2 separate regions of the Homo sapiens genome follow, and region 2 is reported to be linked to region 1. The links are microRNA targets in miRTarBase. Many come from high-throughput screens and were not tested one by one. Region 1 holds a microRNA gene; the other region holds the end of a gene's coding sequence.
Evidence for each region. The annotated mature microRNA hsa-miR-134-3p reads CCUGUGGGCCACCUAGUCACCAA and lies in region 1 at 3,132-3,154, shown strand. An mRNA with a match to its seed (bases 2 to 7 or 8) in the 3' UTR can be bound and repressed. Matches are read on the target gene's strand: a 7mer-m8 pairs with bases 2 to 8, a 7mer-A1 pairs with bases 2 to 7 and ends in A, and an 8mer does both.

Region 1 (4,391 bases):
GCATCCAGGCTACCTACAAGAGGAGGCAGGGGGACTCCTCTGACACACCTGGGGAGGTCTCGTCAATGGCAGGTTCCCTCTACAATGCTTTCTCTGCTGCAAATGCAACTCAGCATCACCTCTTTCCTGGATATAATTCCAAGGAATTATTAAAGGAGGCATTGGTGTCAGCACCTCGTGAAATACTCGTAAGGATGACCCATGGCAGAGCCTGTGTCTTCATTGGAGTAAGACTCACATGCTGTGGCCTCCAGGCTCTGGAGGCCTCGGGGGCAGAGCAGGGTTGAGGCTGACCGTGGGGCCTCGCCTGGGTTTGTGGCTTATCATATTGGACCACTGTTTTTCAGGACAAACTCCCCGGAGATGTCCCCTGGCAGGACCCTGACCTGGAGGCAGGGTGCTGTCCATGATAGGGGAATGGATGGTTGATCAGAGAACGTACATTTTATAAATGGTGTATGTCAGTTGATCCACAGTCCCTACCTATCCAGTGACTTCTGGAGGCCACATCAGCTCAGAAGACAAGGTGGTGGTTTCCTAGGCCATGCTATTTTCTGGCACTTGAAAGGACCTTCTCCTTGCCGGGTTTGCTTTCTTTATGCCCAGTCTCATGAGGGAGTGCCTTTTTTGAGTATGGATCTTGCTGGGGAAGCTTTCTGGAAGGAGCTGTTGCCCTTCGTCCCTCTCCAGGGGCAAGAATGCATGGTTGGCTGGAAAGCAAGGGCTTGATTGACATTGTGCACCCCTCAACTCTCCTAACCCTCTGTCCCCAATTCATCCTCAGGCGGACTAGCTGGAAGGAAGGCAGACTCTGGTGAAGACGTGGGCCGTCACCGTCAGCCTTCGGTACTTGAAGAGTGGTTATCCCTGCTGTGTTCGCTTAATTTATGACGAATCATACAGGGACATCCAGTTTTTCAGTATCAAATACTGCTTTGGAAGGCTTCCCGGACAGCGTCCCGCCTTCAGGCAAGGGGTCTTGGCTTCACCTCCCACCCAAGGTATGTATGTGAACGGGCCATCGCAGTGCACTAGCTTCTTCATGTGCCACAGCCATGACCAGAATCGAATCTCTGAGGAAGATGGTTACTTCTAAGGCTGTGATTTTCTGGAAGGGGCTTTGGTGTCTGCACTACATTATTGGGGGAAGTTGACCAGTGAGAGGCCCATTCACACAAGACGTCTGTCACCTGCTCCAAGTGACCCTCACCCTTGGTAAGATGAATCTCTGGAGACATGCTGGCTCGGTAGTGTTACTGTCATCAGCCGGACTGACTGATAGGTAATTGGTCATCATTATTGCTTTTGTTCCAGGGCAGAATTTTTGAGTGCCAAATCTTGCCAGGGAAGGGTTTCTGGAAGCAGCACCGCCCTCTGGGGAGACTTGGCATCCACATCTGTTGGAGTTTGTGGAGAGTTAGTTGAGCAGTCTGAGCTTTGTTTCTGAGGCGTCTCCCTGAGCTCACTCTCCTGCCAGAGCTGTGTCCTGCCCATGGCCATAATGGCTATTGAGAGGGTTGGTGACTTTGGCCACCATGATTTTGTTTCGATAAAGTTCTCTCTTTTTAAAAAAATCAGATTCTTTTGTTTATAGCATAACTACATGGTTCATGAGTTGATCAAATAACAAGGAATGACTTGGTCATTCCATAAATAGTGATGGAGTGCACACTGTGTTCTAGGTGATTCTGGACCTTAGCAGAGAGCAGTGAATGAAATCAAGTTCTTGCTCATGTGGACTTTACATTCTGGTGGAAGAGACGGATGAGAACACATGAATTAGGAAGCGTAATTTTGTCCACTGCTAGGTTTTATGGGGAAAGGGAAAGCGGGTTACAGTGACAGAAAGAGGTAAAAGCAGGTGGACCTTTGTGTTAAATACAGGGGTCTGGAAAGCTCTCTCTGAGGATGTGGGTGGGAATGGAGTGGGGTGGACCAGAGGAAGGTCTGGGGTAGGAGCATTTCAGGAGGAGGGCAAGGCCCATGGAAAGCCCCCTGGCATCTTTAAGAAAAAGCAAGAAGGCCAGTGGGATTGAACCGAGCTGCTGGGAGTCGCTGGGTCTGAGCTGGGAGAGGCAGGACTCCAGGTTTTATTCTGAGTGAGATGGGGGATTTGGAAGGGTTGTGAGCAGGGGGGATGCGTGGTCTGTGTTGGAAAGATCACTCTGACCACAAGGGCATTGATAGAGAATCTACCCAGGGCAGTGATGGGGAACCTACCAGGAGCCTGGCGTGCCTGAGCTGGGCAGTTTCTCTAGGGGCACCTGCAGTGGCAAAAGGGGGCCCCCTCTGGACCTCCCTAGTTCAGTGGGCCCTGCGGGAGCCTGGCTGGCACCTTGATGTGCTTGATGGATAACTCAGTGTGCTCTGTTGAGAAGTCCAAGGCCCTGTTCAGAAACCCTGGGGTCTACACACTGCGGAGTGCTCCTGGCGTGTGACAAGTGGCTTCCCTCTTCTTATTTCTAAACCTTGTGCGTGTGGATTCAGGACCACAATTTCAACTCCAGGGAAGGGGGACTGTGCCAGCACCACTCCAAGGGAGGTGAGTGAAGGGTTGCCCAAACTCCAGTGTGTTCCTAGGACACCCGTAAGCTGCCTCACTAATGCTCGGTGTCCACTCTGTCCACAGGATGGTGGTTGGCAGCCACTCCCCTTGGAGAAGTGGAAGGGGACTCCTTGTCTGTCTTGTCTCTGCTTTTCTGTGGTACTTGAAGAGAAGTTGTTCGTGGTGGATTCGCTTTACTTATGACGAATCATTCACGGACAACACTTTTTTCAGTACCAAATGCTACCTCTAAGGACTTCCTGGACACAATGGCAGCTTCAGGAAAGATAGTCTTTGTGTCAACCATGTGGAAAAGCCAAGAATGGATGGCGGGCCATGGACAATGCGCTGACCTAGCTGTAAGTCACCTGGCCCGATAATCCGAGCCTCCCATGCACCTATAGGAGGTCTTCCCATGGGTCTCACCAACTCTGGGGAATCAGCTGTGGTTCTGTCACCAGCGTCACCTCACAAGACTTTGAAGAGAGGCTCCCTGGGCCCCAGGCCGACTTCCAGAAGAGATGTTGGTGTCAGCACCGTCCAGGGTGTGTGACTGGTTGACCAGAGGGGCATGCACTGTGTTCACCCTGTGGGCCACCTAGTCACCAACCCTCAGCATCACTCCCACTCCAGGAAGACTTTCCAGAGCTCCCACCAACTCTGGGGAAGCGGCCATGGACTTGCTGTGACTGCTTGGTGGACTGCGATGACACGTGCTCTTGGGGGTGTATGTTTACTTAAAATGCAATGAGTCAGCCTTGGCAGCCCCTTCACCACTGTGACAGCCTCCTTGAAGTGTTGACTTCCGATGTGGGACGCCATGTTGTCTTCTGTTGAGGGACCTGATGTGGGCCAGCTTTTCTCCTGGGTGTGTGACTGAATCCTTCTTCCCAGAGCATGTGCTGCCTTTGTTAGGTCTGTCACGTCGTCCTCTAATACCCAGCATCCTGTCTCTCCCTAGGAGGCTCCATGGAGATAATGCGGCTTTGGGAAGCGGCCATGATTCTCCTGTCAGGGACCAGTGAGCTACGCAAAAGCTCCCTGTCTTGTCTGGAAGGACGAACTGCATCCTTGCTGCTGGGGAGAAGGCAGTGCCCTCAGCACTCCCTTAAGGTAAGTGCGCCTCGGGTGAGCATGCACTTAATGTGGGTGTATGTCACTCGGCTCGGCCCACTACCCAATACTATCCCACCCATTCCTAACAGGACTCCCGAGAAGGGCGGCCACCTCTGCCAGAGAGGCAATGGATTTCTCACCAGTGTTCATGTGTGGTACTTGGAGAGAGGCTGGCCGTGATGAATTCGATTCATCAAAGCGAGTCATACACGGCTCTCCTCTCTTTTAGTGTCAAATTCTGCCTCGGAGGGCTTCCTGAGCCAGTGCTGCTTCCAAGGTAGGTTTCTGGATGGCTGACCCCATGGCAAGCATTTTCCTGAGGATGCATGTAACTGACCTACTAACTTTAGAGTCCAAGCTGACCCTAAAACAACTTCCTGGGGCACTACCAACTTTAGGAAAATCGAGAGAGGTTGTTGGGATGCCCTAATTTTTTAAAAGTTAAGATTGAAATACACATGGCTGACTTCTTTTTTTATTCCTATCAAATTCAACCTTGGAGTTGAATCTTGGGCATCTAGAAGCATCTTTTATTAGTCAGCCGTCGGGATACAGAAGAAAACAGGAACAGGACTCTGTGCGACCCCTGGTTTACTAACCCACAGCAGCCTTACACCCTCCAGAGAATTCCTGTAAGGGAATCCCAGGTTTACCAAGGAGGCAGTGCTTAGCCTGCTTTTGCACACACATTTGTGTGTGGTTTGCTTCATATTTAATGACTCCTGTGCCA
Region 2 (4,391 bases), not on the chromosome of region 1:
TGCAGATAGAAAGATTAGCTAGAAAACTGTCAAAACAACATAGCTCAAGTTTGTCTAAGAACAGGTACTTTTGTACTCTTACCTTGACCCTTATTTTGCTTCAGTTGTTCTTCGCCAGGGATTGAAAGGGATAGTGTATGTGAACAGAAGTTTCAAAAAGATAAGTTTCTTTGTAAGTGAGTTCTATAAGAAGGGTGATAGATGATATATATAAAATATCTCTTCATGGCAGGTAATACTGACTGCTTTTCCTCTTGTAATCACTTTACCACTCCGGTATTAAAGACAGTTGTACAGATTCTACTTTAGATTAGAATAATGCAGTAGCTTTTTATTTTCTGTGGCAGGACTGCTCTGAGTATAAAATTTTTTGTAAGGTTGTATTTTCATTACTAATTGAGCTCAATTTTCTGTCTTTTCCTTGCTGAACCAATAGGTCTTGGCTGTTCAACCGTACTTTCTCCAGAAGGATCAGCTCAATTTGCTGCTCAGATATTTGGGTTAAGCAACCATTTGGTATGGAGCAAACTGCGAGCAAGCATTTTGAACACATGGATTTCCTTGAAGCAGGCTGACAAGAAAATCAGAGAATGTAATTTATAAGAAAGAATGCCATTGAATTTTTTAGGGGAAAAACTACAAATTTCTAATTTAGCTGAAGGAAAATCAAGCAAGATGAAAAGGTAATTTTAAATTAGAGAACACAAATAAAATGTATTAGTGAATAAATGCTTCTCTAGATCCATATTAATAAACATGAGCATCTAACCCCTCCTTTCTTAGGCTAGACACCAAGATATTTCAGCCAGCCTTTATCATTCCTCTTACTTTATCCTTTTTCCTTAAGTATTGGTGGTCACTACTATTGAGTTTCTTCCTTAACACTGATTAAATGATCTTAACTCCCTCAGCTAAAACTGGCATTACTGACTCCCAGCTATATTTCTCCAGACTTGCATTTTTTTTTTTTTTTTTGAGACAGGGTCTCACTGTCGCCCAGGCTGGAGTGCAGTGGCGTGATCTCAGTTCACTGCTGCTTTCCCTCCTGGGCTCAAGCAGTTCTCCCACCTCAGCCTCTCGACTAACAGGGACTATAATCTTGCAGCACCATGCCGAGCTAATTTTATTTTTTGTAGAGATGAGCTCTCACTATGTCACCCAGGTTCGTCTCAAACTCCTGAACCCTAGTAATTCTCCTATCTCAGCCTCCCAAAGTGCTAGGGTTACAGACATGAGCCACTGTGCCTGTCTAGACTTGTACTTTCAACTGTCCATTTCTCCCTGTCTGTCCCATGGGCACTCATGAAAAAACAGAATGCTCCCAACTTTATTCATCTTCCAAGCCTGTAGCTCTTGGTATACTCACTGTTGCAAGTCAGAAGCTTGATTTCATCATTGATGTTTTTCTCACGTTTCACATCTCACTCATCACCAAGTCATGTTGGTGTTAATTTCTGATTAACCCTTGAATTTACCGTCTTCTCATCCTCTGTACAAAAGCCTCAAGTGAGGGTCAAATTCAACATTATCCTGATCTAGACAGCCCCCATTCTCAATCCACCCTTTTCCAAGTTGATTGCCCAAGGACTTCTAACAATAAACTCTCTTTTGCACCACAGACTTCTTTGAAAATATACATGCTGTTGACCCTCTCTGTAGAAAACCGCACACATAAAACTTACCAACAGATTTCATTGGTTCTTGGGTTCTCCCGAAGCCTATCCATGGTTTATAGATTAAGAATTGATGAGGTAGCTGGGCACAGTGGCTCACACCTACGATCACAGCACTTCGGGAGGCTGAAGCAAGCAGATCACTTGAGGTCAGGAGTTTGAGACCAGCCTGGCCAACATGGTGAAACCCTGTCTCTACTAAAAATACAAAAAGTAGCCAGCCGTGATGACAGGCACCTGTAATCCCAGCTACTCGGGAGGCTGAGGCATGAGAATTGCTTGAACCCGGGAGGCGGAGGTTGCAGTGAGCCTAGATCATGCCACTGCACTCCAACCTGGGCAGCAGAGCAAGACTCTGTCTCAAAAGGGGAAAAAAAAAATTGCTGATGTGACCCATGAAGGGAACTCATTTTCCTCGTAATTTTGGACTGCCACACATTGGTACCTTTAGTTCTCTGAAGGCCCACGTTTTTATCATTAAGACCTATTTGTTAGCTAGTAGAGCTTTATGTTCGCTGTCCATGAAACCTTCTGTAACCACAGTGACTACAAGTAGTTCTTTCTCTATTGAATTATTAGGTCCAGAATAGAAGATGTCATTGTACACTTTATTTCCCTCACACTGTGTTATGCTCTGATGTGCTATGCTTAGCTATCTGTCAGAGATTAGTAAATTATAAAACTCATGTGTACTACTTAAGTTTATATCTTATGCTAGTTTATAAGAACAATTAAAAGGACTTAGAAGATTAACTTTGGTTTCATGGTCTCTGAAGTCACTGACTGCTATTTCAGCTTGTTTACCCTTACCTAGCATTAAGACTCCATCTACTTCTGTGCAGTATATGAAAATTTTTAAACTTTCATTTAGACTGGTGGATAGGACTGACCATTACAAATTGTCGTTATCAATTTTTTTTCCTTTTTTTTTTTAAGAGCCAAGTTCTCACTGTCTCCCAGGCTGGAGTGCAGTGGCATGATTATGGCTCCCTGCAGCCTTGAACTCCTGGACTCAAGCTGCAGCCTCTCGAGTAGCTGGGTGCATGTGCTACCACACCCAATTATGAATTTCATCATTAGTTTCTTAGTAGAGTCCACATGTCCTCAGTAGTAAGTTCATCAGTGCTAAATATTTGAAGGTATTTCTACTGTTTTGTAAAAGTAACTTAAGCCTACCTGGTCTGCTATCTTTTGAGTATTTATACTTTCTACGGGCTTGTAGGTAAACATAAAAAGAGAAAAAATATCCCAATAATACAGTTTTTAACCTTTTATGATAAAGACATGCTTAGAATTGCTGTTAAGCTTTCTGAGATTTAACCACTGAAACTAAGTAAAAGACAAAGCACTTAGGTAAAGCTTCATTCAGTATCCATTCACCCAATACTGGTTTGATTCTAGGGCCTAGGAAAATAGGACTGAGCAAAGCCCTTGTCCAGATGGAACTTATGTTTTAGAGGGGAAAACAAACCATAAAAAGGTAAACAGTATAAAATCAGGAAAGGATAAATGTATATGAAGAATCAAAATGAGGACGGTGATGGGGATAAGAGGGGAAGGTTTTTGAGGAGAGCAGAGCAATGATGTAAAAGCAAGACACACAGATAGGGAAATAGCTTTCCATACTAAGGGAATGGGAAATAAAGCTGAGTTTTGCCTTGAGGACCTCCAAACATGAGAATTGCTAGAGCTCTGTGAACAAGGATGAGAGTGGAAGACAATATAAGCAAAGGCTACATCACTTAGGGCCTATAGGCCACACTGAAGTGTGACAGGAAAAACTCAGTTTGAGCAGAGGCTTGACATACTTAACATATTTAAAGGTTCTCTGGCTGTTGTGTGGACAAGAGGAGAAGCAGAGATTAGTTAAGAGGCTATTGTAGCCCAGGTGAGGGATGATGTATGATCTTCAACATGTCTAATTTTTTTGTGCCTCAATTTCATGAAATGAAAATGCGACTAATACCACCTCATAAAGTTGTGAGAATTACATGAGTCAATATATGTAAGGCCCATCATGGCACACAAATGTGTTATGTAATATCCATTTGGCAGACTGAAGAACAACAGTATGAATGGAATTCATTCACCATGAGAATTACCTGGAATTCTCTGGGCATGGTAGCTCATGCCTGTAATCCCAGCACTTTGGGTGGCCGAGGCAGGTGGATCACCTGAGATCAGGAGTTCGAGACCAGCCTGACCAACATGGAGAAACCCAGTCTCTAATAAAAATACAAAACTAGCCGGGCATGGTGGCACATTCCTGTAATCCCAGCGACTCAGGAGGCTGAGGCAGGAGAATCGCTTGAACCTGGGAAGCGGAGGTTGTGGTGAGCCGAGGTTGCGCCATTGTACTCCAGCCTGGGCAACAAGAGCAAAACTCTGTTTCAAAAAAAAAGAAAGAAAGAAAATTACCTGGAATTCAATATTGCCATCGGCTGATTTAATTTCTAATATGAAGAAAGGGGCAGTGTGATGTGCCACGGAGCATCCACAACCTGCCATTTCAGCCCAGCCAACCTTAGAAAGCCATTGAAAAGAGTTGTTTTTAATGGTGTTTTTACATCCAGCTTCCCACACCTCAAATACTTGGGGTGGAATTGTTAATCTCACATTGCAGTACAATGAAAATAGTGGAATGGAAATCAAGTTATAAAATGGAGCTAAATATTTCTTCTGCTTGCCTCTGAGTTGATAAGATACCATAAGATACTG

Region 2: the mRNA of PAICS is a reported target of hsa-miR-134-3p. Seed matches in the 3' UTR shown: 7mer-A1 at 1,614-1,620.

What each region holds. Positions count from the first base shown.
Region 1 is chr14:101,051,601-101,055,991 of GRCh38, forward strand. MIR134 (microRNA 134) reads left to right here and starts at 3,087; the gene lies at 3,087-3,159. It overlaps MIR487A (microRNA 487a), which reads left to right and starts at 846; the gene lies at 846-925. MIR382 (microRNA 382) reads left to right here and starts at 2,706; the gene lies at 2,706-2,781. MIR668 (microRNA 668) reads left to right here and starts at 3,658; the gene lies at 3,658-3,723. It also overlaps MIR485 and MIR381HG.
Region 2 is chr4:56,458,936-56,463,326 of GRCh38, forward strand. It overlaps PAICS (phosphoribosylaminoimidazole carboxylase and phosphoribosylaminoimidazolesuccinocarboxamide synthase), which reads left to right. Exons shown (of 9, transcript NM_001079524.2): 9 at 437-4,391. The coding sequence ends at 603. LOC124900706 (a long non-coding RNA gene) reads right to left here. Exons shown (of 2, transcript XR_007058126.1): 2 at 2,375-4,058. Among named protein-coding and RNA genes, the nearest start is that of SRP72, 6.5 kb to the right of the region's middle. RefSeq lists an enhancer at 63-1,262.